Linked DNA regions of Homo sapiens: region 1 is linked to region 2. The links come from fine-mapping of genetic effects on gene expression. A gene starts in region 2. The other region holds a variant in brackets. All regions are shown on one strand. Distances are between the middles of the regions. Region 1 overlaps LINC02402 (long intergenic non-protein coding RNA 2402). Region 2 holds the start of LINC02402 (long intergenic non-protein coding RNA 2402).

The links. PIP is the estimated chance that this variant, and not a neighbour inherited with it, causes the effect.
Region 1: its variant is fine-mapped to the expression of LINC02402 in testis (GTEx, PIP above 0.99).

Annotation. Positions count from the first base shown.
Region 1 is chr12:42,602,170-42,618,577 of GRCh38, reverse strand. LINC02402 (long intergenic non-protein coding RNA 2402) reads left to right here. Exons shown (of 6, transcript NR_110042.1): 6 at 2,616-3,075. Among named protein-coding and RNA genes, the nearest start is that of PRICKLE1, 21 kb to the right of the region's middle. RefSeq lists a silencer at 6,765-6,965 and enhancers at 14,409-14,909, 14,910-15,410. The variant G/A (reference allele first, on the strand shown) is at 9,472.
Region 2 is chr12:42,638,249-42,654,656 of GRCh38, reverse strand. LINC02402 (long intergenic non-protein coding RNA 2402) reads left to right here and starts at 8,159. Exons shown (of 6, transcript NR_110042.1): 1 at 8,159-8,387; 2 at 10,363-10,430; 3 at 11,233-11,340. LINC02451 (long intergenic non-protein coding RNA 2451) reads right to left here and starts at 8,074. Exons shown (of 5, transcript NR_135027.1): 1 at 8,003-8,074; 2 at 7,418-7,554; 3 at 2,074-2,197.

The DNA.
Region 1 (16,408 bases), 36 kb after region 2:
TACAATTCTATGGTAAATTCCTATCATTTTGTGTTACCTTGGCTTCTTTCTTTCTTTCTTTCTTTCTTTCTTTTTTGTTTTTTGCTTTTAGTAGAGATAGGTTTTCACCATGTTGGTCAGGCTTGTCTCAAACTCCTGACCTAAAGTGATCCACCCTCCTCAGCCTCCCAAAGTGCGAGGATTACAAGCATGAGCCACTGTATCTGGTCTACCTTGGCATTCATTTTTAATCTTCCTCTAACACAAACAAACTCCTTATTGAAAAAGCTTAAATTATCTCTATGTATATGCTTTGAGATATAAATTGCTATCTGGTTTTCTCTAAAACTCAATAAGCGTTTCTCAGGATAAACCTTAAAGTTTTCCATTTATAAAGGCACAGTTTTCCTCCCGCTGTCCCTTTAAATTAGTGAGTTTTACTATTCTCATGGCTAAAATTCTAAAATCAAAACTATAAAGCCTTTATTGATGTCTGTCTATGGTTTTCTGTGTTCATGTGTATTGTCTGTTTGTATACTATCTATATGGTACCAAATTGATTTATAAATAAATGAGCACTCATAAATTAGGTAAATAAGCTTAAATGTTGTTTAAGTTCGTATGATTTTAGTAATCTTTGGCAAATAGTTTGTTAAATTGTAAATAAAAACATCTTTAGAATATAATTTAGACAATTTTGCCTGGGTCTATTGGTCAGACAGGTTTATACTGTCCTGATAAATGTTTTAAGGTCATAAAACTGTTGCTTCTATGTTATTTTTAATACTTGAATAATTTGTCTGTGAGCTTACATCTTTGGATTTGAGCCTTTAGATTCTGAAGTCTAGATAAGTGACCATAGTGGGGTGTGGGGACAACACTTAGGCCCTTTCCTCCCTTGCTCAGCTGTGCCTCTTGGCCATGCTGAGAGGGGTTATATCCTCTAAGCATTGTCTTCACAGCTCTGTTTTTTGTCCTGGACATTACATCTCGTACATGATTAAAATTGCTTACTGCTGAGGCTTTTCATAAAAAATAAGGATTATTAAGAGTAAACATTTAATTAATATATGTAATTAAAACTATTAGATATAAGAGAAACAATTCCATATGTAAAGTATATAAAGAAAGTAGGAAGGACTTTTGGTTGAAAAGAAAAGTTATAAAAAGGCATGAGAATGTGGTTTTTGTTACAGGGAAAGTAACGAAATTTACTTGGCTTCTAAAAGTTGGTTTTAGCTTTTAAAAGTTGGATTATATTAAAGAAATTTAAAAATCGATAAACTAAATGGATATAAAAAGTTGGAAAAAATGAGAAAAATTGTAAGAGGTTATAAAATATTTATAAAAATCTTATGGTTAAAACTGATTGAGATTGGATATATTTGCTTACAAGTTTTTATTAAAATTAGCATGAACATTAATTATACACTAACACAAAGGTAGAATTTGGATTTCTTTTTTGAATAAGATTTTTGTATAGTATTAATAAGAGACAGAAAAATATTTTTGTTTAACTTTTCATTAGACTACAAGAAAAAGAGAGGGGAGAGAGGGAGAGACAGATTTTTGTTTCCCTTATGGTGTTTTTGTCAGGTTTTATAATTGGGAAACTGAGTGTCCTCTCTGTTGAAGAGTAAAATGTTTTGCTTTTTAAAATGTTTTCATTATCACTTAGCTAAATTAATGACTATTATTTTATAATGATCTGTGATCCTATTTTGAGCAAGCGTTTTAAACTTTTGATATTTGACAAACTTTCCTAAATCAACGTTTCAAATTCTAAACTCAGTTTTTTTAACCTCAGACTAACTTTATTTATATTACGCCCCCTGGAAGTTCAAACGAGCTATATTAGGATTATTTAGTATGTTAAAATCATACAGGAAGCATTGTCAAATATGAAATGGTGTTTAACTTTCTTTGCATTGTATTTGTGTAAATGCATTATTAATATATATTCCAAAATTATGAGATTTCTAAAATTCTGATATATTTTAGTATATGTTAATAATAATTATGATTATTATGTTAAATTATTGCATGTCATAGAAATAACCAAATGTCCTTGTCAAATGTCATTAGCCATAGTTATTCTAAGATTTTTGTCATCCACAGACAATTATTGTTTTACTATGATTCTTCTCAAAAAGTGGTTTATAATCAGCTACAGTATAAAATTGCTTCTTTAAGAAAATGTGTGGAAAAGGCTCTGACAAGTACTCTTATTCAGGTTTCTGATAGCTTTAGAGATTATACCATTGGAATAAATAAAAACTTCCAGCATTCATGAGAATTGCTGGCCCAACATCAGGCAAAACAAGAATTAATTACATGGGACTGAACTAACAGAGGACTAAAATGATGTTTTATGATTTCTTTTGTTTGAAACACTGCTTTTTTTTTTAACGTTTTGTCTTCCAGGGTCAAGAAAACTTTTTCTTTTGAGCTATTCAAGCTTACAACAAATTGGGTAAAGTATATTTTGTGAGCAAAACCTGAAGCTTTTATATTTCTCTCTAACTCATTTCTCCAGAATTTGGAAACTATATTTTTAATTTATAGCAATATAGTTATTTGCATAAATTCAATAAAGATCTGTTGTATTTATGTTTGTTTGTTTGTTTCTCTAACAGGACACAATTGGAGATACTGGTTACTTTACAAAGCATTTAACTGGAATGGCATATTTTCCATAATGACCAGACTGCTTTGAGGAATTAAGGTTGACTTATAAAGCTCAAAAAAAGCTTCTTGGAAAGGCTGGTCTGGTATGTTGTCTGCAAGGTTCCTTTACAAGTTCCCTGACCTTTGGTAACTAAGGAATGTCACTTTCTGACAGTCCCAGGAACCTCAAATTATTTGAGCACTTTGAGGAAAGAGGAACTCACCCAATTCATACAGATATTGCAATAGTCTGATGGCAAATCCTTGGCATGGCTTCTAGCCTTGAGGCTTTTAAAAGTCTAATCTGAGATTCCTTATGAAAAAGTTCCAGCAAAGTCAGTCTTAAAAGAGTTTATATGCAGCCTGAATGACATAGTAAGAATCCCATCTCTAAAAGAAGAAGAAAAATAAATAAAAATAAAAAAGCCTATATAGCCAATCACAATTCTTGCTGCACTTTATGCAAATAACCAGGCCAAGTATAATAAGACTAAAACTTATCTTGAAAATACATTTGTCCTACTGTAATTTGTCTTTGGTAGAAATAGAGGACCGTAGAAATAAAAATTATGTTCCAAAAGAAAACTAGAGTATACCTGTTATGAGATTCCAGCTGTGTCCATTATTTTTGAGTTTTTATTATATGCCTACACTTTGGATTGAATTCTGAATTTTTTTCTGGCCACACGTCTCCAAACTAATATTTCCAAATGCTTCTTTCGTTTTCCTGACTTGGAATCACTAGACACTAAAACTGTGCTTTTCTTAAAGCCTTGCAAACTGAAGCTAAGCAACTTAAATGAACTTCAGGAGAAATCCAAGCAACTTTTATAAATCATCTTCTCACCTCCTGATGTATGGACTACTCAGAAAGTTTACTTGAACACTTAATTCAAACTACAATCCAGAAAAATCTGTCAGATTGCCATTGCAATTTGAAGATGCTTCAGAGACTCTAGAAAAATTAGTCTATAGAGTACTCCAGATATTAACCTTTTTCTTCTTTTTCCATAGAAATGCCTCTTATTAAAGATCTGTTTGCCTACATCATATGTAGAGGCCTATCCTATCTGCAATGCCACCTCTTAGAATGGGACACAGCCATTTAACTAAACTGATCTATTCTCAGGGCTAAGAGGCTGATTAAAGAAGATATGGGTTGATATATTTAAAGTCGTTCTTTTGTGTTTATCCCAATTTGTCTCCACTCCTTTGTCTAGCAACATCTAGCCCAAATCCCTCCAGTGGGATCAACTTGGTTTTTAATATGTGAAAATTTTTTAACGTTTCAAAGTGGAGTCTGAAGGAAAGAAAAATATTTTTCCTCAAAATACACTTCTTTGACATATTTTTGAGATGGCTACCAGAGAGCCAGCAAAATGAAGTAGCACCCTCCAAACCTGTGGTTTGTGGAGAAAATTTGCATCTGTAGAAAATCTGCATTGATGCAGCCAGACACTCCCTCATCCAGACCCAGCAAACATTAACTGAGAGTCTGACATCTTTAAAGGACTGGGCGGGGGAGAAATTTACCATTTAATCTCACTGAGGACTGCTACCTCTGAGGTTCCATTTACATAATAAGATCACTTTTGCTAGCCAAGTCTCCTGTTCTCTCCTTCCCATAACCTGTCTTGCCACTAAAACCCAATTTACCATCACAACTTGTTTTTGGCCATGCACCAAGTCCCCATTCTTTCTGTCATCTTGAGATGGCATATAAGCTTCTGCACCCCAGTGGGGAGTTGGGTCTTCATTCTGAAGTGTTCCCATCTACAATGTAAACATTAATGATAAATTAGCATACTCTTTCTCCAATTAGCCTGCCTTTTGTGGAGTGATTTGAACCTTCTGAGGACAAAGAGGAAGTTTTCCTTTTACCCTTGCACTTCTTTACAGCTTCCTTGACCAGGCCCTTGCTTACACACCCAGGATCTCAGCCTCATCTCATTTTGCAGCACATTGATGTTCCTGTCTTCCCCCAGTCCTCCTCTTCGCCATACAAAGTTGTGCCACACATGTTCTGCATCTGTCAGAATGACCTGCAGCTACACACTCCAAAATACTTACACACACAGTATCTCCTGAGGATGTACATAGGTTCACTCTCTCTCTCTCTCTCACACACACACACACACACCACACACACACACACACACACACACACACACACCACTCAGCTCTTACTATCCTAGGACTCTCGGTCGGGTCTTTGACAAGCCAAGCCTCCCCTTGCTTGCTGTGTCTTTCCCCCTCCTCTAGGCTCTGCCAGGCATGACTCATTTGCCACTTTACTCCATCCCATGGTTCCTGTAGATGGCAGGGGGAAGTGGGATCATTGGCCGTGAGTACCAAATGATCTATTATTATGGAAAATTCTTTTCCAGATGAAACTCCTTGGCCATCTGGCAAAATGTGTAATGAGGGGAAACCAAAAGGAGAAGGAAAAACCCATGAAACATTTGCTCATTTCAGGTTGGGAAGGAAGATAAAAACAGAATATGGTCTACTCAAATGCATCTACTAACACAAAGCATAAGACAGAGCAGCCTATATTAGTGAAAGAAGCATCTGTATTTCACCCCTGTGCACATAATAGTTATTATTGGTTTAGAGATGGGGTCTCGCTATATTGCCCAGGCTGGATTTGAAGTCCTGGGCTCAGCCTCAAGCTTCCATCTCAGCCTCCCACCTCAGTCTCCCAAGTAGCTGGGACTACAGGCATGCACCACCATACCTGGCTGATAATATTTATTTATTTTTTTTTTTTGAGACAGAGTTTTGCTTTGTTGCCCAGGCTGGAGTGCAGTGGTGCAATCTCGGCTTACTGCAACCTCCGCCTCCCAGATTCAAGCGATTCTCTTGCCTCAGTCTCCCGAGTAGCTGGGATTACAGGCATACACCATCACGCCCAGCTAATTTTTTGTATTTTCAGTAGAGACAAGGTTTCACCATGTTGGCCAGGCTGGTCTCAAACTCCTGACCTCAAGTGATCCACCTGCCTCAGCCTCCCAAAGTTCTGGGATTATACGCGTGAGCCACAGTGCCTCGCCTGGCTCATAATATTTAAATTGTAGATTTGAAACTAACTTTTGCCAGGAGAAACTTGTGAGAGGCAATATTTTTAATGGTGTTAGTTGGGGAGAACATTTGCATTTTTGCCTGATACAATGTGTGAATAACATTTATTTGCCTTGCTCTTCCTAAGTAAAAGTAAAAACCATTCTGTGATTTTTGTTTATGTTAATTTATGAAAAACATTTTAATGTCAAAAATAAAAAATTATCTAACATTTCCATTTTATGCCCATATTCTGAATATGTACTCTCCCTGATTTTTAAATATTCTACTCATGTAACCTGAAATCAGAACAGCAAGTCCCAAGGACAGAGTTAGAATCATAATATATTCCTTCTCTTATAAAGCTATAGATCAGCCACAGTGAAGATTTGTCCACTTTATTTCCAACTGAGACAGAATTTTGGCATGAGACAGAGAAAGAATGTGCTTTATGAGAAACAGACAATGCTGACTTTTCCTCAACTTGGCTCTGACAAGCAGAAAGTTATTTTCCAGTAATGAAAGTACAAGAATATTTCTGTTTGGATAATAATCATATTTGAATTAGTCACATGAAAATGGGATATGAATTATCCATGTCAAAAGGGGAAAAGAGAGTGGTGATTATCAAAACACTTTCAAGGTCCTCTTAGTTTTCCTGGTATGCAAAAAGATGCCAGTATGCAAATTTCAAAACATCTTAATCAGCCTTTCAAGAATAAATCATTCCTGAGTCCTTAGATCCCTAGGGAGGGGCCCAAGACTCAGCATTTTATCTGCCTAAGAAGACCAAGATCTTTCTGTTGGGTGCCCATTCCCATATGTGAAACTTTCAACTTTGACTCTGCCTTTTAGATCCTTGTTTCTTTCCTGATTGTAGCTACATCGTGCTCTTTATTATTTGCAGTCCTTGGCTCTGGTCTCCCACCTCTTGCACACGCCACAAATTTCCCCTCAAGGAATGAGTCTATGACTGTGAAAGAAAAAAAGAAGAAAACCTCCCATTTCCCAGCTTGGTGAGGAACTGTGTGTTTACACTTTTCCCTCTTCCCCTCTGTATCTTCATCTGCTTCTTGGAGTGGTGACAATGCCAACTGCAACACTGACTCGACAAATGCAGACTAGTGAAGATTCTTTTGATTAGAAGCAACAGAAGAAAACTTCACACTTGCTAGAGCCAAAAAAACAAGGTAGGAGAAGGAGATTTATCATAAAGATACAGAGGTGATTCATATAACCCAAGAACAGGAAGACAGCGAGGCCTCAGGAAGACTAGAACAGGGAGGGAAGAGGGGTGAAAGCTTTCTCCATGTCTCCTCACAACCCTTCACTTCATCCTTCTTAATGTGATGATACTTGTCCACCCAGTGAATATGAAATGGCTGCCCATAATTCCAAAGTTTCAGTCTCACAGAGAGACAGAGCTTCCTTAGAAACCCAGGGGAAAAAAAAAAAGTTCTAATTGGCCCAGGTGCACACCGTTGACCTAATCAGCCGTGGCCAGGGAGGGAAGGATCAGATTCCCATACTGAGAGGTGACAGCGTGCTGGCATCCCTCACAGCCCTTGCTCACTCTCGGGGCCTCCTCGGCCTGGGCTCCCACTCTGGCCACGCTTGAGGAGCCCTTCAGCCTGCTGCTGCACTGTGGGAGCCCCTTTCTGGGCTGGCAAGGGCAGGAGCCAGCTCCCTCAGCTTGCAGGGAGGTGTGGAGGGAGAGGCGCGGGCTAGAACGGGGGCTGCGCGCGGTGCTGGTGGGCCAGCATGAGTTCTGGGTGGGTGTGGGCTCAGGACCTGCAGCCCGCCATGCCTGAGCCTTCCCCCCAACCCACCCCCCGCCCCTACCGTGCGGCCAGAGCCTCCCTGACGAGTGCTGCCCCTGCTCCACGGTGCCCAGTCCCATCGACCACCCAAGGGCTGAGGAGTGCGAGCACACGGGGCAGGACTGGCAGGCAGCTCCACCTGCGGCCCTGGTGCAGGATCCACTGGGTGAAGCCAGCTGGGCTCCTGAGTCTGGTGGGGACTTGGAGAACCTATATGTCTAGCTAGGGGATTGTAAATACACCAATCGGCACTCTGTATCTAGCTCAAGGTTTGTAAACACACCAATCAGCACCCTGTGTCTAGCTCAGGGTTTGTGAATGCACCAATCGACACTCTGTGTCTAGCTACTCTGGTGAGGACTTGGAGAACCTTTGTGTCCACACTCTGTATCTAGCTAATCTAGTGGGGACGTGGAGAACCTTTGTGTCTAGCTCAGGGATTGTAAACGCACCAGTCAGTGCCCTCTCAAAACAGACCACTGGGCTCTCTGTAAAATGGACCAATCAGCAGGATGTGGGTGGGGCCAGATAAGAGAATAAAAGCAGGCTGCCAGAGCCAGCAGTGGCAACCCCCGCCAGTGGCCTTCCCCACTGTGGAAGCTTTGTTCTTTAGCTATTTGCAGTAAATCTTGCTGCTGCTCACTCTTTGGGTCCACACTGCCTTTATGAGCTGTAACACTCACTGTGAAGGTCTGCAGCTTCTCTCCTGAAGCCAGTGCGACCACGAACCACAGGGAGGAACGAACAACTCCAGACGTGCCGCCTTAAGAGCTGTAACACTCACCGCAAAGGTCTGCAGCTTCACTCCTGAGCCAGCGAGACCACGAACCCACCAGAGGGAAGAAACTCCAAGCACATTCGAACATCAGAAGGAAAAAACTCCGGACATGCAGCCTTTAAGAACTGTAACACTCACCGCGAGGGTCTACGGCTTCATTCTTGAAGTCAGTGAGACCAAGGACCCACCAATTCCGGACACAATATCACTGCTGGAAGCCCACCATTAAGAAAGGGTGATGCCGGGTGCAGTGGCTCACACCTGTAATCCCAGCACTTTGGGAGGCCAAGGAGAAAGAATCACTTAAGGCGAGGAGTTCAAGACCAGCCTGGACAACATAGCAAAGCCTTGTCTCTACAAAAAAAATTCAGAATTAGCTGGGCAACATAATGTACACCTGTAGTCTCAGCTACTCAGGAGGCCAAGGCAGGAGAATCCCTTGAGCCCAGGAGGTCGAGGCTACGGTGAGTCGTGATTGCGCCACTGCATTCCAGCCTGGTGATACAGCGAGACCCTGTTACTAAAATAAAAATAAAAATTTGTTTTTGAAAATAAAGGGTGAGAGAGTAGTCACATACTGGGAAGATACAGGATAATAGTGACCACCGAGTGACTGAACAGGGAACACTAAACTAGGAAATGGGGTGGGATGACAGGACGTGAAAAACCAGCATTATTTTAGCCATTAGAAAAAAAAATTGTGACCAACGAAGCTTAAATAAGTGTAAACCATCTAGAATCCCAACATAATAGAAAGATTAAATGTGTAACTTGGGGACCTATAAAGAAGCACCCTTTTTCTCTCCTCAGAAATCCGCTGGAAAATGATCCCACTAAATTATAATTCACATGGAGTAAGGCTTCTTAAACGCTCTGATAATTTTTTTTTTTTGTAAACTTTCTGTGAGAATTTGTGTCAGTGAAGAGGAGTGAGAAGAAAAGGTCTGATTGAGATGTAGCGAGTGATTTCCTTCAGTTGTGCCCCACAGACCCAGGAGAGAGAACTGCTCCTTCGGGCCATCAGAAAGCCTGTGTCATCAGCAGAAGCAGCACCACCTCAATCTGTTTTTTTGGCTGTGGTTCCTTTAGCCTAAAGAACAATTTAAAGCCAGGCTCTCAGTAAAGGCAGCTCCTACTACTCACCATCTTCCAGACCAGAAATCCAGC[G/A]TCCTGGGTGTTGTAAAGTTCCTGAGTGTCTGTGACACATCACTGCAGCTACTCTGTCTCCTAAATATCAATAGGATGTTGAGAAAATAAAGTGTCTGCGAAAGTGAAGGATGCACAACATGCAACACAAGGCTGGAAGCTCAGGTCGATTTTACCTAAGAGTCCATCACAGGCTGAAACCCACAGGCCAGGGCCCAGCTGTGAAACCAGGCAGAGCCTCCCGGGTATGTTGTTGTTGTTGTTGTTTGTTTGTTTGTTTGTTTGTTTGTTTAAAGGCATGATCGGCCTAAAACTATCTCTGGGGACCAACATGAAATCTAATAGTGTACAATTTAATATATATAAAACATAGTTCATCTTGGAATAGTGTCTACAATTAGAGCTATTTAACAAGAAGTCAGCAACTAGCAAACAGCGTTAAGAGCTTAGCTTCGGGCAAGTTTGCCAGATCTCCCACATAACTGCAGCCCACTCCCAGGACTCAGGAACGCTGATGTGTCACCTTCCTTCCCATCTGTCCCAGGGAACACTCATCCTCCATGAAAACGTGGCAGTAGCCGCAGAACTCCCTCTCTGCCTCTCCTCTTCTCTGCAAAGAACCTTAACTTAAACGGGAAAACAGCAGAGGAAGAAAGAGGAATTGATGGGAACAGGGCAAACATGAGCTCATTTAAAATGCAAGAATGATGTTGTTGACTTTAACTCCAAAGCGAAAGTCTGCAAATGACATCTCCAGTCAACTCAGTAATGCAAAACATGCATTCAAGTTGGTAAACTCCCTGTGAGGAAAGATGAACTTCACGGACTTACCGGACTTCTTGCCAAAGAGTTCTCCAAAGGCTCCAGAACCATTTTCTTTAATGGTAGTGTTACCAGAAAGGGGTCCCGATCCAGACCACCCCAAGAGAGGATTCTTGATCTCACGCAAGAAAGAATTCAAGGCGAATCCACAGAATAAAGTGAAAAAAAGTTTATTAAGAAAGTAAAGGAATAAAAGAATGGCTATTCCATAGGCAGAGCAGAGCTTGGGCTGCTGGACTAAGGACACTTATAGCTATTTCTTGATTACATGCTAAACAAGGGGTGGATTATTCATGAGTTTTCTGGGAAAGGGAAATTCCCAGAATGGAGGGTTCCTCCCCTTTTTAGACTCTACAAGGTAACTTCCAGATGTTGCCATGGCATCTGTAAACTGCCATGGCGCTGGTGGGAGTGTCCGTTAACATGCTAGTGCATTATAATTAGCATGTAATGAGCAGTGAGGGCGACTAGAGGTCACTGTCATCTCCATCTTGGTTTTGGTGGGTTTTGGCTGGCTTCTTTAATGCAACCTGTTTTATCAGCAAGGCCTTTGTGACCTTTATCTCCTGCCGACCTCCTATCTCATCCTGTGACTAAGAATGCCTGTCTCAGGGAAATGCAGCCCAGTGGGTCTCAGCCTCATTTTACCCAGCCACTATTCAAGATGGAGTTGCTCTGGTTCGAATGCCTCTGACAGTAATATGAGCCTCAGAGCCTTATTAAATACTGACAAGATTTCAGCTCCTGCCACCTTCACCCTTTTGGGGAGTATCAGAGTTACTCAAAATCAAATATGTTCTCCAGCTCAGAAGCCTCATTCCTTCCTTTGATCAGTTAGTCATTCGTTATTAAATACTTTTTTTTCCTAGTATCTACTAGATCCCAGACACTTTAATGGACGCTGGGGACACGGCAATGAATAAGACATAGACCTTACTCTTAAGGCTTTCAGTGGATGAAGGAAAAACAATGATAGAAACAGTATGCATTGGCTGCTTGGAATCCCCTTGAAACTTGAAATCATGCATGGTAGCTCCTAACCCTACTGAGCAGTGTGTGGCACGACATTCTCCACCCACTTCCTATAGTCAACTGGTTTCAGTGTTGAAAAAGATGAGTGTTTTCTGACAGTGGAAGTACCAATAAGAAGGTAAAATATCACCCAATGTATAAGGAAATTTGAGGGAAAAAAGTAAATAAATTACAATCTTTGGAGAGAAGAGCCAGGCTACAGAAGCACCAAACAAGGAAACAAAATTTTTTCAAATGAAATGTCTAAGATTGAAAGAGTAAGTTTTAGCAATTAAGCACATGCCTACAAGCCAGAATGCCAGGATTTGGGTAGAGTAACGGACAGTCAAACATGTACTCCTAAGCCATACATTGGTTACTTACTTAAAATCTCCCTTACTTAAAATCTCCCCTAGCTTCCTGTTACTCACTTAACAAACTCTAAGTACACATACTCACACATATAGTTCATTCATTCAGCAGAACCTCTAATATGCTATGCAACATTGTAAGCAATGATCCCTGTCCTCAAGAATCTCAGTCTACATGAGAACACAAATTTTTTAAAATGCAATATAATGTCCTCAGAGCCATAGTCACATTACGTACATTGTGCCAAAGAAGTACAATGAACAGAGCCAAATTCTCTCCCAGGGTAGAAGGGAAGTAAGAGCAGGCTTTACAGAGAATAGATATTCACATAACACTTGAAGAATAAGTGGGAATTCTGAAAGAGATAGAGGAAGAAAAAGCAATGAAGAAAATTAGGCAAAGCAAAGGGTTTGAAGTCTGATTGTACTTGCTATTGCCTATGGAATGATCCAGTTGTGAGATGGATCAGTCAGCCAACCTGCCCTGTATACACAGTCTGTACTGGGCAAGTATAACTCTGGGCTTCAGGAAATGAGAGGGTTTCTAGGAAAGTATTTATATTTGAGTCCTTTTCCTTTCGGGAGAAGATTGCTGAAAAGAATTGGATAGAAGAGAAAAACACTACATTCACCACTGACAATCATGTGTTTTGTATACCTATTGTAGCTTATGATTTTATCAATATATTTATCAATGTACTTATAATTTGATGCTCTTTATGAAAAAATCAAAGGTGCTTTTAGTAAAAAGTGAAAGGAAAAGTTGTCAGTTATCCAGGTGATCTGATACATGTAGATAATCTTAATAGCTTAAACAAAAAGAGATAATTTGACAATGATCTGGCATTTTAGGCTATATACATAATTGAATGATAAGATATATTTATTTGACACAAGTTTTCCAGGTGCCAGATTTGGTGCTAAATCATTTAAACAACACAACTCCCTCTCAGAGAGCATACATTCTAGTGGGGAAGACAGACAATAAAAATGTAAGTTCAAAAGATAAGTTTGTGACAAGAGCCAGGAGGCTTACAGTGGTATGCCAGACAGTCACTTCTTTTTGAGGCAGCTATACTTAGGCAGAGATTTGAAGTGAGGTTGAAAACCTTTACTTCCAGAGCTCAGTATCTAAATTGGGTTTCCACATAGATAAAATTAATAATTATAGTATAATGGGGGAAAGAATGAATTTTGCAGCTGACACATGGCATCTGAGTTTGGCCACCCTGGGTAATTTACTTCTCATTTCTGCACATGTGCTTCCAGATATAGCCATAATAGTGCCCACCTAACTGAGCCATTGGTGGAATTAAAAGGAGGCAGTATCATAATGAGTCAGATGTGTGTGTTTCTTTTCTTTTCTTTTTTTTTTTTTTTTGAGACGGAGTCACTGTGTCGCACAGGCTGGAGTGCAGTGGCACTATCTCGGCTCACTGCAAGCTCCGCCTCCCGGGTTCACGCCATTCTCCTGCCTCAGCCTCCCGAGTAGCTGAGACTACAGGCGCCTGCCACCACGCCTGGCTAATTTTTTTGTATTTTTAGTAGAGATGGGGTTTCACCTTGTTAGCCGGGATGGTCTCGATCTCCTGACCTCGTGATCCGCCCACCTCGGCCTCCCAAAGTGCTGGGATTACAAGCGTGAGCCACCATGCCCGGCCCAGATGTGTGTTTCTATATGAATTCATTTATATCACCCAGCAACCCTAGAGCACAGGCACCATTATTATCCTCATTATACAGATGAGGAAACCAAGCATCCAGAGGGTAGAAGTGGGGTTTAAATGGGGATGGTTTGACTACAGACCCAGGCTTTTAAAATACTATTCTATGCTGCCCCCTGGTATTAATAACTAGCAAACAGGGCTTAGTGAGTCTTTTTCCCCTTCACTTGAGACAAATACAGCTTTAGAAAACAGAAATTTTTTTACAAGTTTATCCTAAGAAAATAATGGATGAGCACAGAGTTAAAGTATGCTCATCACTACTAAAGAATGTTTATTGATTGATTGATTGATTATTTTTTAAGTTCTGGGGTACATGCACAGTATGTACAGGTTTGTTACATAGGTAAATGTGTGTCATGGTGGTGTATTGTACCTATCAACTCATCACCTAGGTATGAAGCCCAGCATGTTTATTTTTAAAAGTTGTTTTAATATCCTAAAAATGTATCATATAGCCATAAAGTTGTGGTTATAAAATAATATTAAATGGCATGGGAAATATTCACTATATGTTAAGTGAAAAGCAAGTTTCACCTGTCCAATGTGATCAATTGTTATAGTGCATATATGCCCAGAAAAAAAGACATGCATAGCGGGTAGAGAGAGCAGGGAGGAGGGCATTTCTGGCCTCAGCGGGATGCTTGTCCCTTAGGCTGTACAGGGTGGCTGGGGCTTTGTATTTTTGGATTTTTTTTTTTGTATTTTTCTATACTTTTCAAAATTTTTATGATGAACATATGTCTTTTCAGTACAAGAGAAACAATAGAAATGGAAGTTATCAAAACACTACTCCTTTTACAACAGCCTATTTGTCTTTGTTTATTCATACAATGTTTTTCTCCTTGTGGCATAATACTTCCATTAATGGAGATAAAGCATTCCTACCATACATTGCCTTCTCAGAAGTTTAATGAACGAGTTGGACAATCGTAGCCTCTACCTGGCATTTGCGCTCTCCCTCTGTTTGGCTGCTATAGGGCACCTTCTCCCCAAGCCTCTCACTCCGAATTTAGTGCTTTCCCTACAAAGGGTCTTACCCTTCTCTTGGGGTCAAAGAAAAATTGGGCAAATGAAATGTGTGTTTCTCTGTTAAAGAGGAGGGGCATCTGGTTCCTTGCTAGCTAGAACAATTAAAGCACTGATCTTTAACGTGAAACAGAGGTGAAGGATGGGATGTTAACAGCCACTCTGCCACCATGAGAAAATCGGACCCCATTTTGTCTGAATTTAACTGGAAATCTCATCAGCATTCTTCTATGACTCTAACTACAAATGTTACGTTTATGGTTGGAGAGCCCTGGAGTGCACTAACCTATAAAGCAGATAAATTAGAGGAAGGGATTCTGCATCACACACAAAAAGATGCTTTGCCTTACAAAAGATTCACCTCGGGGTCTTTTGACTATATGGACCCCTGTGAACAGCTGTTGTGTTGTTTACAGGTCATTAAGTATCTGGCTGAACGATGGGTTAAGGCCAGAGTGGGCTTCAGAGCTGGGGCCACTATGAATTACAGATCAATTAAATGTGGAAACAGCTTTCCAGTGGGGAATCCCACCCTTCTTTTCTGTCCTATGTCTGGGAAGGAACTGCTAGGGAGACAAGAAAAGACAGGCAGATTAGCAAGAAAGTAATTTGGGGGAACTTCTGAAAAAACTACAATGTGTGCATGCATAGAGGGTGGAGGGAGCGGGGAGGAGGGTACTCCTGGCCTCAGTGGGACACCTGTCCCTTAGGCTGTACATGGTGGCTGGGGCTTTGTTGCTCCCAGCAGGACTGCAGTGGGAGGAACCGTGAATCACAGATCCCTGTCAATGTTTGTCTCTGCTGTGGCAGCTTTGGGACAGGACCTCTTGTTTTGCAGACTCCAAAATTCTCCCTAAGAGATGTCTTAAGCAGAGGAGGACCCCCAAGGAAGAATTGTCACTGGGGCTCTCTAACCTCTACTGTAATTGACAGGCCCTGAAGAAATCTGTATCTCCATTAACTGATGGACTCAAAGACTACTAAAAATAGAAATAAGATCTACCCAGTTTAACTTATCTCATTCCCTCAAAATTCTATGCCAGCTGCTTTCTCTTCAACAAATTACAGAGCTGGGTCTCCCAGTCACCTGAAGTGAAGGAAGGTTTTAGGTTTAACCACTCAACCATTACTTTTCTGTTTCAAGTAATGAAAAATTTAATTTTTCTGGCAATTATTGATCTGATGTCAGTTCTTTATTCTACAGGTCATGATTTATGGCTACATCATGCGATGTGCATTGATCCAAGGCTTTTAATGCTCCTTCACAACATTTATTTTCCTACTAGTCTGAGAATCAGAGCCAGCACAGGATTCGCTTTCTGACCAACAGTAACATCATTGGTAGTGCCACGTAAGGGAGTTGACCATAACCGCCCCCTCCCCCCGGTATTAACTGGTACCTGAACTGTTTGGTACCAGCTCCAAATCCAAGGTGCCTACTTTGGCCAACAGAGGATCAGGATCCTTTCTACATACTGATTATACGACACCACTTTCACATTTCAGGAGTGGCCTCTAAAAGCAGTTGAACCCGTTGACCAATTATAGCCTAGAAGGACAGCTAAATAGTAATTATGTCAAACGCAACTCCTTTGTCAGATACACTGTCACATATAAATGGATAACACTAAACGATTTTATTTAAAAGATTTCCCCCACTCAGATATATAGGACTTCATTTCTGAGCTGAATTATCCTGGAACAAAAGTCAGGCTGTGACTTTTGTGTATTCAAAATCAAACATGATTCAGGAGTTAAATTAAGACTTCTCTAGAGAAGAAGTAAATAGGAATTTGGGTAATCTCTTTCCTCAAAATACTCCAGGTCAAAGTCTGTCCTCTGCATTTCTTAATGGGGTAGAATTTGGGGAATTCAATTAAGTATTTATTTAAATTCTTTAAGAGATGAAGAGCTCAGAAATGAGAAAATCCCCCACATTGTCTGTAGCAACTCCTGAGTTTATTCTTCGTTATTTTACTCCAGATCCTTTGTATAGGCATC
Region 2 (16,408 bases):
ACCTGACAAAAACAAGCAATGGGGAAAGGATTTCCTATTTAATAAATGGTGTTGAGAAAACTGGCTAGCCATATGTAGAAAGCTGAAACTGGATCCCTTCCTCACATCTTATACAAAAATTAATTCAAGATGGATTAAAGACTTAAATGTTAGACCTAAAACCATAAAAACCCTAGAAGAAAACCTAGGCAATACCATTCAGGACATAGGCATAGGCAAGGACTTCATGTCTTAAACACCAAAAGCAATGGCAACAAAAGCCAAAATTGACAAATGGGATCTCAGTAAACTAAAGAGCTTCTGCATAGCAAAAGAAACTACCATCAGAGTGAACAGGCAACCTATAGAATGGGAGAGAATTTTTGCAATCTACTCATCTGACAAAGGGCTAATATCCAGAATCTACAATGAACTCAAACAAATTTACAAGAAAAAAACAAACAACCCCATCAAAAAGTGGGCAAAGGATATGAACAGACACTTCTCAAAAGAAGACATTTATGCAGCCAAAAGACACATGAAAAAATGCTCATCATCACTGGTCATCAGAGAAATGCAGATCAAAACCACAATGAGATACCATCTCACACCAGTTAGAATGGCAATCATTAAAAAGTCAAGAAACAACAGGGGCTGGAGAGGATGTGGAGAAATTGGAACACTTTTACACTGTTGGTGGGACTGTAAACTAGTTCAAGCATTGTGGAAGTCAGTGTGGCGATTCCTCAGGGATCTAGAACTAGAAATACCATTTGACCCAGCCATCCCATTACTGGGTATATACCCAAAGGATTATAAATCATGCTGCTATAAAGAAACATGCACACGTATGTTTATTGTGGCACTATTCACAATAGCAAAGACTTGGAACCAACCCAAATGTCCAACAATGATAGACTGGATTAAGAAAATGTGGCACATATACACCATGGAATACTATGCAGCCATAAAAAATGATGAGTTCATGTCCTTTGTAGGGACATAGATGAAGCTGGAAACCATCATCCTCAGCAAACTATCGCAAGGACAAAAAAACAAACACTGGGCCGGGCGCGGTGGCTCACGCCTGTAATCCCAGCACTTTGGGAGGCCGAGGCGGGTGGAACATGAGGTCAGGAGATCGAGACCATCCTGGCTAACAAGGTGAAACCCCGTCTCTACTAAAAATACAAAAACTTAGCCGGGCACGGTGGCGGGCGCCTGTAGTCCCAGCTACTCGGGAGGCTGAGGCAGGAGAATGGCGTGAACCCGGGAAGCGGAGCTTGCAGTGAGCCGAGATTGCGCCACTGCAGTCCGCAGTCCGGCCTGGGCGACAGAGCGAGACTCCGTCTCAAAAACAAACAAACAAACAAACAAAAAAAACAAAAAAACCAAACACTGCATGTTCTCACTCATAAGTGGGAATTAAACAAGGAGAACACATGGACACAGGAAGGGGAACATCACACACCGGGGCCTGTTGTGTGGTGGGGGGAAGGTGGAGGGATAGCATTAGGAGATATACCTAATGTTAATTGAAGAGTTAATGGGTGCAGCGCACCAACATGGCACATGTGTACATATGTAATAAACTGCACATTGTGCACGTGTACCCTAAAACTTAAAGTATAATAAAAAAATAATAATAATAAGGTTATTTCCTCTTCTTTTTTTTTTTAATCACCAGACCCTGGCTCTGAACTGACAGCAGTTTATTTCATAAAAATGAACTAGAGGCTACCTTTAAGGCGCTTACATTCTAGAAGGGATCAGGGAAGAGAAAATAAACAGTAACACAAGTAAATAATATCAGGTGCTAATAGAAGTATAAAAAATACAGAACAGACTCCTGTGCTGGGGGTTGCTGGTAAGAGGTTGACTGTTGGGAGTGGGGGCAGTAATTTCAGTTGACAGGTGGGGACAGCCTCTGTGAGGGGGGAATATTTGAACTGAGCATGGGAACAAAGATTTCCAACCAGAAAATGCAAAGCACAAAGTTCCTAGCACAGAAAAAGGCTTTGTATTATTTTGCTAGGGCTACTATAACAAACACCACAGACAGGGCGACTTAAACAACAGAATTAATCTTCTCACCATTCTGGAGGCTTGAAGTCCAAGATCAAGATGCCAGGGTTGATTTCTTTTAAGGCCTCTCTCCTTGGCTCATAGATGGTTGTCTTTTCCTTGTGTCTTCACCTCATTTTCCCTCTGTATGTGTCTATAGGTGGAAAAGCAAACCATTTTCCTCTATACTCTCACAACACGCCTGTGACACCAGATGTGTGGGGATTTCTCCCATCGGCAAGCAAGTGATTGCACAGAGGACAACAGCGGGGTGTCCTCCAATTCAACTCAATTCTGACAATATCTACCTGGAGAGGGCATCAGATCACAAAGGTTGAGGACTCAGCTGCACAAGACTGCCCTCCACTTCTGACAACAATTGCAAGCCCCAGGTTATTTTGCCCGTGCTTCTGACTCACCAAGTATAAACCAGGGCTCCCACGAGCTGCTAGAGCAGGTCACAGAACTCAGGGAAACACTTACTTGGTTTATTACACAGGATATTTTAAAGGATACAAATAAACAGCCAGATGAAGAGAGGCATAGGGCAAGATCTGGAAGGGTCATGAGCCCAGGAGCTTCTGTCCGGGTGGAGCTGGGGTGCACCACCCTCCCAGCTCGTGGATGTCTTCTTGTTCATCTTCCTGGAAACTCTCGCATGCTCAGCTATCCACAAGCTCTTCCAACCCAGTTCTTTTGGGGTTTTAATGAAAGCTTTGTTACACAGATATGACTAATTAAATCAATCAGTCATTGGTAATCAACTTAAACCTCAGCCTCTCTCCCCTCCCTGGTTGTTGGGTGGTTGGAGTGTGGGGCTGACCACATGGCTAGTTCTCCCCTGGCAATGAGCACCCCATCATTTGCCCACCCTGAGTTTCCAAAAATCACCTCATTCACACCAGCTCAGATGTGGTTGAAAAGGCTTTGTTACGAATAACAAAAAAACATCTTTCTCCCTCACTTCTCTGAAGCTGTTTCTAGGGTGTTTCAAGAACCCAGGACAAAAGGCCAAATAATTTAACAAAAGATATTCTTATTGCTCTAGTCACTTAGGAAACAGCAAGGCTTACAGGAGCTGAGAACCCGGAATCATGGACAAAACCCAAAATATATACATCATAATATCATGGTCGTATTGAGTATACGTCATATTGGATTAGGGCCCACCCCAATGACCTCATTTTACCTTAACTGTCTCTGTAGAGGCCCCATCTCCAACTACAGTCACATTCTGAGGTACTGGGGCTTAGGACTTGGGCATATGACTTTAGGGGACTGAAAGGGCACTATTTGGCCTCTAATAGGCTGGGTGTGTTTTAGGGATAGAAAGAGCACCAGAGCGGCTGCAGTGTGGTCCATCCAAAGAGAGTAAATTGGGGGAAAGAGGGAGAGAGGACTCTGGATTTTATTCCACCTGTTTTTCCAAGGCTTAGCACAACCATAGCTAAGCCCTTTGTATGACTTCAGTGCTTTATTCAGTGTATTTTATTCTCAATATTTTTTGCATGGCTTACATATATCATTAACTTAGTGTATAGCGTTATATGTTTTCTGTGTTATTTTGAAATCACTGACACATAATAATGATAAAATAGTTCTTATGTCATACTATCATCATGAAGATCTAACTAGATTCAGGTAGGCACTCAGCACAGTCTAAAACATGGTAAGCACTCGCACATGGCAGCTACTTGTCATCCTCCTCATCATCGTGTTAATGGAAAGACCAAACTTTAAAATATTTTAAAGAGGCTTACTGTGAACTTGTATGAGTGACCATGGCCCAGGGAACAGTCTCAAGAGGTCCTGAGAAAGTGTGTCCAAGGTGGTCAGGTTACAGTTTGGTTATATACATGTTAGGGAGATGGGAATTGTAGACCAATTAATAAATCAATACAAAGCCAGGTGTAGTGGCTTACACCTGTAATCATAGCACTTAGTGCGCAGATCACTTGAGCTCAGGAGTTTGAGACCAGCCTGGGCAACATGGCAAAACCCTGACTTCACAAAAAATACGAAATTAGCCTGGCATGGTGGTGCACACCTGTAGTCACAGCTACTCAGGAGGCTGAAAAGGGAGGATCCCTGGAGCCCAGGCAGTCAAGGCTGCAGTGAGCTGTCATCATGCCACTGCACTCCTGGTGACAAAGGGAGACTGCCTCAGAAAAAAGTGGGGGAGGGCAGATTTTATGGTTTGTAGGATGTGACTTAACCCCTGCCTTGCATGGCCTTAGGTCTTCTTTGTAATTTGGTATCCCATTGCCACAAAGATTCTGTTTTGCCAGTCTTGTGACCTCTATTTTAACCTAAACCCCAAAAGAGTACAACAAGGTGTGTTCAGCCTCCCTTCCTGGCATGGCCTGGAATTTCGTTTTTTGGGTTTCTCTGGGGTTCCCTCAGCCAAGAGGGGGTCTGTTCAGTTCAGTCAGTTGGAGGGTTTAGGATTTTATTTCTGGCTTGCAATCATCAGGAGGCAAGCCCTAGTTCCCAGTCAGGGGCAATGTTCCCCCTAAATGCCAAAAAAGAGGACAACTTGAGGCTTGTCCTTGAAAAGCCTTCTCCAGACACTTCCTCAACTAACTACAGAGCTAGCTCAGAACATGAGAAAACAATACACTCGCCATCTTTGGAACACTGTAAGGAGACAGACTTGCTCTGTTTATTGGGATCCACCCACCTGGGACTGGGATTGTGCTGGCCTAGGCTGGAGGAAAGCTCACCCCACAGAGGGAAAGCAGACTTTCTCCCTCACACCTGCCACTGCCTGGCCCAACAGCGGAGCCTCTTGCCGGCCTTTCCCCATGCCCCAGCTTCTAAGGCAGCCCTTCCGTGCAACGCTCCTTCCCTAGCACCTGGAGCTACATAACCCGAACACAAGATAAGTAGAAGGGAGCATGTGAGAGTTTTCTGTCCCCAGTTGCTGGATAGAAAAGCCCTCAGAAAACTCCAGAAGGGCTCTGGTTTGTATGAACAACTGTTTTGTTCCATGGTGAGCAAGTAAGAACTGTTAAGTCAAGTGTAGCCTAAAGGTGCCTCCCTACATATTTTAAGTTCTGCATAAAGGTTTCTCTGTTCATAGCGAACTGTAACTTAACTGGATGTGTCAACAGACTATAGCCTCCTCTTGTGCCAATCACCAAGTTTTGGCCAATCAAAGGAAACCAACTGTTCAAACCTTGTTCAAATAAGGCAAATGCCAAGCTGTAACCAATCTGGCTGTTTCTGTACCTCACTTCCATTTTCCATATGTCACTTTCCTTTTTCCATCCATAAATCTTCCACCACGTGGCTGTGCACTGGAGTCTCTGAGCCTACCTGGGCTCTGGAGGCTGCCCAATTGGCGAATCGTTCTTTGCTCAAATAAACTCCATTAAATTTAATTTAGCTAAGGATTTTCTTTTAATGTAACAGAAGCCTTCAGTGACACTAGTGGCGATAGGTAAAAAGAAGCAGGTGAATCAATCACTTGGGCCACTGGGAAAACTGAAGGAGAGAAACGGGAGCCTCCCAGGATACCTTCGGAGATTTACACCAAAAAAGAGGTCCCACAACTACCTTCTCTCAAACTCATCTAATTCCTCAGCTGTTCCTCACTTCCTACCCCCATCCTGCTTGAACTCATGCCACAGGCCATGGGGATCACCACCTAAAGACTGAAAACGGAATCTCCACTCAGTATTCCCGAACATATGAGGAGACGGGAGAGGCAAAAATAAGTATAAGGGAGAAAGAAGAGAGTAAAGCAGAGGCTGAGAAAAAAAAGGGTAGGGTTATGTTCCTGGCATCCACTTGGGAACTCTGAATACATTCTCCTGATACAGTCAGCTAGACCAGTGGGTAGAAATTAGAGTGGGGCCGGATGTGTGTTTAACAGAAGGATATGTTTTCTACTAATAAGACATGCCCTAATGTTAGTAAGCTGCCTTATGTTATAGAGTGCTCCCAGTCACTGGGAAGATTTAGACAAAGTCTGGATTGCCCTGTGCCAGAGATGGAGTTGAATGGACTCCCTTCTTAGATGGAAAATTGAGCTAAATCTCCCTTTCAGAGGGAGAATCTTTGATAAGTTACATATAGTGAATCTACACAGTACCATAGGTATATTTGTAAAGAGGTAATCTATAAACCATTTGAACTTGTTATTGTTCATTCTTTCAGGTACTGATGTGTAAGAGCACTAACAGGACCATTTGAACAAGTTTACTGAAAAAGTAAAATCCCCTCTATCATGGGTCACATAGGCTCTGATGACTAGCCTGGAGAATGGCCTCATGTATGACTTCGTTTCTATTGGAAAGAATGAGTTCAGTAGGGATTCAACACATTTTTACAAATGTTTTCTTTTCCCGACCACATGTGGTAAGCAGAATAATGCATTCCCCCACCAAAAATATTCATGTCATAATCCCCGAATCCTGTGACTGTGTTGCCTTACTTGGCAAAAGGGACTTCACAAGTGTGATTAAGGATACAGGGCTTGAGATGTGGAGATTATCTTGGATTATTTAGGTAAACTCAAACTAATCAAGAGAATGCCAAAAGCAGAAAACATTTTCTAGTTGAAGCCCATCAGAGGAGATATGTCTATGAAAGAATGGTCAGAGAGATGCAACTTCGCAGCCTTCAAAGACGAAGGAAGGGGGCCATGAGCCAAGAAATGCAGGCAGCCTCTACAAACTGAAAAAGGTGAGGAAAGTGATTTACCCCTAATGCCTCCAGAAAGGAATGCAGCACTTGATTTTACCCAATAAACACCTTTATTTTAACCCAGTGAAATTTGCATTGGACTCTTAACCTATAAGATAATACATTATCTTACCATAAGATAATACATTCATGTTTTTTAAACTATGAAGTTTGTAATAATTTGTTACAGCAGAAATATAAAACTAAGATAACACTAAGGTAATGTCTGCTTATTTTAAGAACTTTGGAAATTTTAGAAAACATTTAAAATAGAAACAAAAGTCACCCTTAATTCTACTCCCCTATAATATCCATTATTAACTTTTTGAGGTACATCCTTCCAGTCTTCTTTTTCTTACAAAATTAAAAGCACCTTTAATCTATATTTAAAAACATAAATGTATACTTTTTCCCCATCAAAAGTAGAATCATTCTTCATGTTATTTTTATGATCTGCTTTTCTTCAGTAGTGTGTGAATATTTCCCCACAACATTATATATTTTCCGTAGCAGTGTTATGTTAGTTACATAATATTCCATCTTACAATTTTAAGATCAAAATTATGTGAACAATTCTTTTAGAAATAGACTAGGTTGTACACATAAACTTGTAATTATAGATTGCATATATGTGTATTTTTAAGTTGTACAATTTTATATTATAATGCAGCTATGTTGTACTCACTTAAAACCTGGAACAGTATGTATTATCACAATTATTTTTTCATCACTTTGTCTTTTCAATCCCATTCGAAGACCTTCCCATTTAGAAGTTACAGATGTGTCATCATTACTTATAATCAGTCCTGCATTGGCCAGCAACTGTCAGGATAGAAAAGTTCAAATGGTTTATAGATTACCTCCTTATAAATACTCCTGCTGTACCGTGTAGGGTAGCTATACCTAACTTATCAAAGAATCTCCCGATTCTTTGATAAATGTTGTCTTCGATTCTTTGATAAATATTGTCTTCAAATAACTGAATATTTGAATCTTCTTATCTCCTGATTCTTTGATAAGGGAAGGGAGATTAAGTTCAATTTTCCATCTGCTAAGGGAGTCCACTCAACTCTATCTCTGGCACAGGGCAATCCAGACTGTCTAAATCTTTCCAATGACTAGGAGCACTAAAACATAAGGCAGCTTAATAACATTAGGGCATGTCTTATTAGTAGAAAACATAACCTTCTGTTAAACTCAGGTCTGGCCCCCCTCTGATTTCTACCCACTGATCTAGCTGACCCTTGGAAGAAATATGCAATAAACTTACACCTTCAAATATTCAATTATTTGAAGACAACATTTATAATCTTTAAGAGTGTGGCTCTGCTGAAGGAATGTTGGGATTTTGAGGTCATAGTAGAATTGTAGTTAAGTGTGGTCTCTCTTAAAGACATGTCATATGAACATTCTGTTGCCAGTCCTCAGTAATATCAGGCAATTCACCTAGAATTCAGAAAGCAACAAATAGAACAATTCCTCTCTCTTGGGACTTCATTTTCTTGGATCTGAATTTTTAAGTCCTGAAGATTCTGAAATATTCCAAAGGATTAGGAGTTTAAAATTCTCTCTTCCTCATGGAGGAAAACCAGGAGATATACAAAGAGGTATCCTGCTAGAGGATCCCAGGCTAACGATGGATTAGGGAAGAACAGGCAAGATTATCTAGTTTATATTATTCTATTTCCACTTTGTTAGTGACTTACACTTAATTACAGTCTTAATAAATATTCTAGTTTTGTCTCAACTGTTATCTGGGTATTATGGCAGGAGACTTATTTAAATATAGATCATGAAGCCCCCTTGGTGTTAAAGGGCAGAATTATCCTCCTGGCAGCAGTAATTAGCAAGAGACCTTTAAGGTAGGAATTACACATAATGTCATTTTTAACACCAATACCAATCAATTAGTAGTGGCTGCCTGAAGCCACATCCAGATTCAAGCAGGAAAGAATGCTTTGATCAATTAGTACTCCTATCAATCATGAATACAACAGAGGAAGTGGCAACACTGGTGAATGATGAGTATCATCCCTGACCTAAAGAAAGTTGCATATCAAGGAACAGGGTTAGGGCCTTGGAGGATCTGGGTTTTCTATAATTAAAAAGGACAATTCTTTTTATTAAGGAAGAAAAATATATTAAGGAAGTTATCATTTACCATATAATTTCACATCATAATTTCTTTGGGCAATTGCCTTCATTTCCTTCAAATGTTCATCACCCAACATGGTTTGCAGGTCCTTTGGCATGTGGATTATGCATGATGAGGCACATTCTGGTTTATCTCTGTACATTCTAAAATGCTGTGCCCAGAACTCCCTGGAAAGGGGTGGAATAGGGAACAGCATAGACAAAAAGATATCCCCAAGTAATATTGGAAATGAAGAAATAGAATAAAAACCACAAAACAGCAAGAATAGCCTCCAACACCTTTATTAAATCTAAGAGAAACAGTAGAGGTGTGTCTAACTAGTATGGCACCACCAAAAAGAAGAGGCAGGCAAAGAATCTAAGGAAGATGCCTCCAGTGAAAGAAACTCCAGTGCTAGCCAGAAACTTACAGTCAAGGGTAGGCAAATTTTTATTCTGCATTTGAAAAAGATTGATAATTTAATAATCATTGCAGAAATAAAGGTGAACTACTTCATTAAATAACATTTAAGAAATAAGTATTAATTACAGAGAAATATAATATTAGAGTTTTATATACATAAAGTAAAAGTACCAAGGCTGAAACACAATTGTAAATGTTCAGTACATTCTTGGGCCATTCCAATCTATTCATTTACACCTATGATTATTTTTCAAATGTACCTGAAACTAAAAATCACAGGAAAGAATAAATTTGAAGAGTATCTATTATTCCTTAAGAGAACCATGTGGTCTCTAATTAAAAGCTGTGTAGTCCAAAGACCTCGTATAAGGCTGGCTCAGTCCCAGAAGTAGCTCTCCTGGCTACACGTTAGAGATACCTGGAGAGGTGTTTTGTGCTTGTTGTTTTGTTTGGTTGTTGTTTTTTTTTTTATTTTTTTTTTTTTGAGACGGAGTCTCGCTCTGTCACCCAGGCTGGAGTGCAGTGGCGGGATCTCGGCTCACTGCAAGCTCCGCCTCCCGGGTTCACGCCATTCTCCTGCCTCAGCCTCCCAAGTAGCTGGGACTACAGGCGCCCGCCACTACGCCCGGCTAATTTTTTGTATTTTTAGTAGAGACGGGGTTTCACCGTTTTAGCCGGGATGGTCTCGATCTCCTGACCTCGTGATCCGCCCGCCTCGGCCTCCCAAAGTGCTGGGATTACAGGTGTGAGCCACCGCGCCCGGCCTTGGTTGTTGTTTTTATTAATTCCAAAGTTAGCCAATTAAATCAAGCTTAATCTGCAAAAACCTCTTCAGAGGATTCTAATCAGAAACCAGGTTGAGTCCTACATAAATTCTAACGCAGTTTTGCCTACGTTAGATTTGCTAAATTCAATTCTCTAACAACTACTTAATCCAGCATGCCAGCTGGTAGGATGAAAATTGACCATGAGCTAGGGAAATTAAATTCTTCCTGCTCTGTTTTTATCAGATAACTCCTCTCTGTTCCCAATTAAGCCATGACCCAGTACTTTCTCATTTATGTAAATTGTAGATGATGTGTCCAAGCGAGGAGGACATAAGAGAAGCAAGGTGCCAAATAAAGAATGAGAGGTCAAATGTGTAAGTAATAAAAGTATTTCTTCAATCACGTTTGTCAGTTCAAAGCTACGAAGACTTGGTTCCAAAAGTGCAGATATTTTTTAACAAAGTAAGAGCATTTGGTACATTTTTTGGCAGATGGCAAGATAAAGTCCATTTGCTTAAGAAGCCACTCCTTCTTTGATGTGGTTAATTATGACCTCTTGGGGTACATACCAACCTTATCAAAATCCATCTGGGTAGTGCTGTGTCTTGTAAAAATGCCTCCTCTTGTTTTACTATTAGTATTGCTTTCATGTCAACAGTGTTCTTGACACTGCATAATCCCAGGAAGACGGGGTTCCAAACCAGTGATTTGAAACCTAAATAACAGACTCAGCAATTGAGACATAAAACTACAGGTGGGAATGTGGGCAAATTTGAAGATTGTAAGTTTCATTTCATTTTTCTTCAACCTTCCTTTTGTCGTCCATCAATCTATACTTTTTTTTTTTCTTAGACGGAGTCTCCCTCTGTTGCCCAGCGTGGAGTACAGTGGTGCAATCTCGGCTCACTGCAACCTCCACCTCCCAGGTTCAAGCAGTTCTCCTGCCTCAGCCTCCTGAGTAGCTGGGATTACAGGCACATGCCACCACGCCCAGCTAATTTTTGTATTTTTTTCTTCTTTTTAGTAGAGATGGGGTTTCACCATGTTGGCCAGGCTGGTCTCAAACTCCTGACCTCAGGTGATCTGCCCACCTCAGCCTCCCAAAGTGCTAGGATTACAGGCATGAGCCACCATGCCTGGCCCATACTTTTTCTCATTTTCTTTTCTGTGTTACAGAATACAATTTGCTGACTGTAAGGGGGAGAGTTTTTTTCCCCAAAATGCCAAAGTACATAAAGATAAAGGTGAAAGTTTCCTCTCACCAGTTCCAGTGTTAACAGTGAGGTATGTGTTATTCCAGACATTTGTTCCCATGCGTATACAATACTTAACTTTCACTGTTGCTTTTTATTAAAAATTAAAACCATTTCACACAATATGAGTTTTGTAAAGACTTTTTAGGAAAGAATTTTCTTGTCAGTCTGATGGATTCAGAGGGAAAAGATCTAAAGGATAAGTGTGGGCAAGAGGAAAAGACAAAAATGGAACTAGAAGAAAATGAGAGAAAGTCTTCATCAATAAATGGAGAATTAAAGAAAGACTTCGCTATTGCTCAAACAGTTAAACAGAGGCAACAAAAACAATATGGAAAACAAAAAGTCTCTATCTTATTCTCAGTGGTATGTATACCCAGGGCATCAGAACATAGCATAGTAGGTGCTTAATAAATATTTGTTTACTAAATGAATACCATACAGTCTCACTTGTGTTGCATGGCCTAGATCAAATTAGAACCCAGGAAGGCAGAGGTAAGTTTATAATAGTTAACAAGACAAGAAATTAGCTCAAGGAAAGCATTTTGATATTGAGAGACATATTAACATTTGATGCTGGCTTATACATGTTTAAGAGAAAGAATCCAGAGGTAAAATAATAGGAAAAAGCCAAGATAGATAAAATATAGTTATTAATTACAGCAGATACAGAAGGAAAACTATAAAGTATTTGTTAGAGAACGTAACCAGACAGGGTAAGTTGGGGAGCCCAGAGAATGAATCAACATTTGTGGAGTTATAGCATGTGCCAAACTTTTTTTTTTTTTTTTTTTTTTTTGAGACGGAGTCTCACTCTTGCTGCCCAGGCTGGAGTGCAGTGGCATGACGTCGGCTCACTGCAACCTCCGCCTTCCGGGTTCCAGCGATTCTCCTGCCTCAGCCTCCGAAGTAGCTGGGATTACAGGCGTGTGCCACCATGCTTGGCTAAGTTTTTTTGCATTTTTAGTAGAGACGGGGTTTCACCATGTTGGCCAGGATGGTTTCAAACTCCTGACCTTAAGTTATCGGCCCACCTCAGCCTCCCAAAGTGCTAGGATTACAGGCGTGAGCCGCCGCACCCAGCCAGCACGTGCCAGACTCTTTCACCTGGGTTATTTTATTCATCTGCATAACAAATCTGCAAAGGAGCAATTAATGATCTTCATTTAAAGATATGAAAACTGAGGCTCTGAAAGGTTTGGGGTCTCAAACCTCTTAGATAATAAAGAGCAGAAGCACTTTTCCAAACCAGGCCTTGGTCCTGTAAGCCCAGGCCTCACTCCAATTGACCGAAGCTTCCTCCAGAGCAGTATGTTGTGGGAATAAGCTCATCGGAATTGTAAACAGTAGCGTAGAGTCTCACTATTCAGAGCAAGCTATAGGGACCATTATCATGGGCATCAACTGGAAGCATGATCTTGGGCCCCACTCCAGAATTACTAAGCAACAATCTGTATTTTAACAGATCCCTAGGTGACTGGTATGCATATTAACATTTGATAAGCCCTCATTTGTCTATTTCTTCTTGCAATTAAAGAGAGAGAGAAGCACTCATTAAACATCATTTTCCCTGAATTCAGCACCACCCATTTGGGAGAATTTCAAGGATTCTCTAAAACTAAAATGCCTGGAAACAGTGAGAAGCTAGTTTCCATTAGGTGCCTTGCCAATTGCATACTGGACTCTCTTTAATCATTGCATCCTTGTTATGTACATATCAAATGGTTCATGTAGTGGAACAGAATAAAACAAGTCAAAAGTCAGGATTACTCTGATTCAGTGTAGAGTAGGCTGATACATCTCAGCAACATCCACTTAAAATGCAATTCTCTGCCCACGTTCTTTCCTTTCCTTCCTATCCAAAGATATATGACAGCCAACTTTAACTCCACCTCTACTGCTTAGACCTCAAAAACAACCACTCACAGGCTGTGCATGTGTGTGCTGGGGATGAAAAAGCACATACTTTGGAAACTCTCCCAGAGCTTCTATGCACTACTAGGGTTTAGGTAACCAAGTCTTAGAAGGCCTTATTCTGGTGTGGTCCCTCCCACTCACTCACCCAGAAGATGCAGCTGGCTCTAGACAACTGGAAGTACAGAGCTCTCTGTCATTCAGTACCCAAGGGCCTTGAGAAAGCCATTCGTCCTTTCTGTGCCTCAAATGCCTCACCTGTAAAACGGGCCTTACCTAGTTCACAGGGAGACCAGGAGAATTAATTAGTGTTTGTAAAGCTCTAAGATACCCTAGATGAAAGTGGCTATATAAGTGTAAATGATTATCATTATCATTATTATTATTATTACATAAAGTATGGATGACAGATTAAGTATGGGATTATATGTCAACCTCCTGGGGATGGCAGATTTCTGGATAAACAAAAAGTGCTGTAGACTATTATTATCCACCTGCCTTTCCCATGTCTGTTCAGGAATGCATCATCATGTTCAGTAGGCTAATCATACAGCAAGAAGTCTTCCTTAGTTCACCAGAGATGAATTCAGAAGAAATGGTAATGAATGAAGACTAGAAAATCTCTTAAACTGTGTATCTCCAAGATAAAGCAGAATTTGCTACCCACCTAAACTGTAATCATCTGATAAACGGGGATGGAGCAATTTTGAACCCAGCCTATCACTGAACCAAGTTACCAAGTCAGTCCAATTAAAAGTTTGCATTTTCCTTTCAGACGTACTACAAATGAAAGTATAAATAAATGCTCAGAAAATTTAAAATCTCTGCCAGATGATCCCTCTGCATAACAACAAAGTAAAGGAAATCTGTAGGGGATTAAGGCCACTTCTGTTCACCCTGAGTAAAACTGAATCAGCCTCACAGCAGATGTTCTGTCCTCTTTTTTCCTTTTCTGTTTTTTTTTTTTTTTTTTGCTACAACCTGGCCCTACAGTGTATGTGTGTGAAGAGGCTGGAAGTTCCAGGTGCCAGCCAGGCAGATCTGCCACATATAGAAACCAGAAATTCTAGGAAAAATAGTTAAATAAGAGGTACTTAATGTAGGTTCCCAGCACCCTATGGGCATCGTGGGTCTGAAAGTTTTCATATGCATGTGAATTTTTACACAGCTTTCATAGATTTTCAACAGTTTCTGTGACCTCAAAGGATTAAGATCCAAATGTTTTCCTCCCATTTAATTTCGCTCTCTGTGGACACACACAATTTCAGTTCTCCTGAAATCCTAATTCACAGTGCTTCCTGATACGGAAGTGATACCTGCGTCTGATAACATGGTTTTCCCAACAATTTCTCCACTCTGATATGCTGGCCATTATTAGGAAGAAGCTTAAGTCAACACGAGTCATAGAACCTGAATCTGGTTCTAATTTTATGTTTAGTTAGGAGTATTTTTGGTGTTCCAAACCTTTCTCTATTTGAAATAACATTTGTGCTTTGCTGTTCAGATTTTTTACTACACTTCTAATGCTTACACTGTTCATTTAACTGCCCTTTCACTGGATTAAAATGACCAGACTATGATTGAAATCTGGTGGAGTGGGAGCTCAGTCTGAGAAAGTATGAATCTTTATTTTATTTCAGATAAGCTCCTGGAAAATGTACATATTTTCCAAAGCAATCAATCAGAATTCACTTGGCAACTAAGCAATCCTACAGGCCCCAGTTCCCTTATGTGATTTATGAGACCTTCTCTTTCCAATAAAGTTGAAAGTACCAGGAGAATAGCTTCTCACCCAGCATTTTTTAACTGCAGCTTCCAAGCTAAGCCAAGAATTAGAAAGGCACACAATGGATGCAAAAATTCAGAAATGGAACACATTCTATGTGGAGGCAGAACATCCTCCTTAAATCACTTTCTAGCTCAATGTCTCTGCATTTTTCACTGATGCAAATATTACATGAAATACTGCTTTATACTATAATTCATAAAGGGTCATGCAGCATTGGGTAGTGTGAGTTTTGAGGGTTTTTTTAATTACACAAACCACCTTGAGGGAGTCAAAAGAACATAGGACTGAGAGGCAGGAGGCCTGAGTCCTAGGTCGCTGCTTGCCTCTTGAGTGAACTATCACTGCCCTATTTGTAAAATGAGGAGGGTCTATAGATAGCCTCCAGCTCTAAAGCTCTATACCACTGAACTCTACATGAGTACTCTAAAGATTATTTAGAGGCATCCTGTTGAGATTTCTGATCTCCCTGGCTACCACAAACATTAATTGAAAAGCTGTTTTATGCTAGAAGCTGAGCCTAGTGCAAGATACTCAAGATAAATAAGACATTATCTCTGCCCTTCAAAAAGCTCCCAATCTCGCTGCATACCATTAACATATTATGAGCTTAAGTTAGAAAAATCAGCAAAGTTCCATGGGCACATAGAGGGAGAGAACAAGGCAAGGGCATTTGAAATAAAGGAGGCAGGATTGGATACAATGACTAACGCCTGTAATCTCAGTACTTTGGGAGGCCAAGGTAGGAGAAGGGCTTGAGCCCAGGAGTTCCAGACAAGTCTGGGCAAGATGGCAAGGACTTGCCTCTACAAAAAAAAAAAAAAAAAAAAGCCAGGCGTGGTGATGCACACCTGTGGTTCTAGCTACTTGGGAGGCTGAGGCAGAAGAATTGCTTGAGCCCCAGAAGTTGAGGCTGCTGTGAGCCATGTTCAGGCCACCGTACTCCAGCTTAGGTAAAGGAGAGAGACCCTTTCTCAAAAAAAAAAAAAAAAAAAAAAAAAAAGGAAAGAAAAAAAACAAAGAAAAGAAGAAACAAAGGAGACAAGGCATGCAAAAGCATGGAGAAATGAAATGCCTTGCGTGGTGAGGGACGGGATGAGCAAGCCCAGGATTTGGCCTCCTTCTCTATCCTGGTCAATCAACCCAGGCAATTTGAAAGGAAACCCAGAGGTCTACTTATCTCTCTCCCTCCAGCTAATCTGTGCCCTACTTCCTTTACTCCGGACCCGTCTTTGTCCCTCTAGTTCTAGAGCCAAGCAAAAGGCAGTCCCACCCCCAGAGAGAAGTCCCTAAAGTTCAGTCCTCCTTTATCATTTCTTTACTGCCTGGCTCTGTGTTGTTTATGCCTAATGGCAGAATGGTGGGAAGAAAAACTGGGGTTGCCTTTAACCACTTCTGC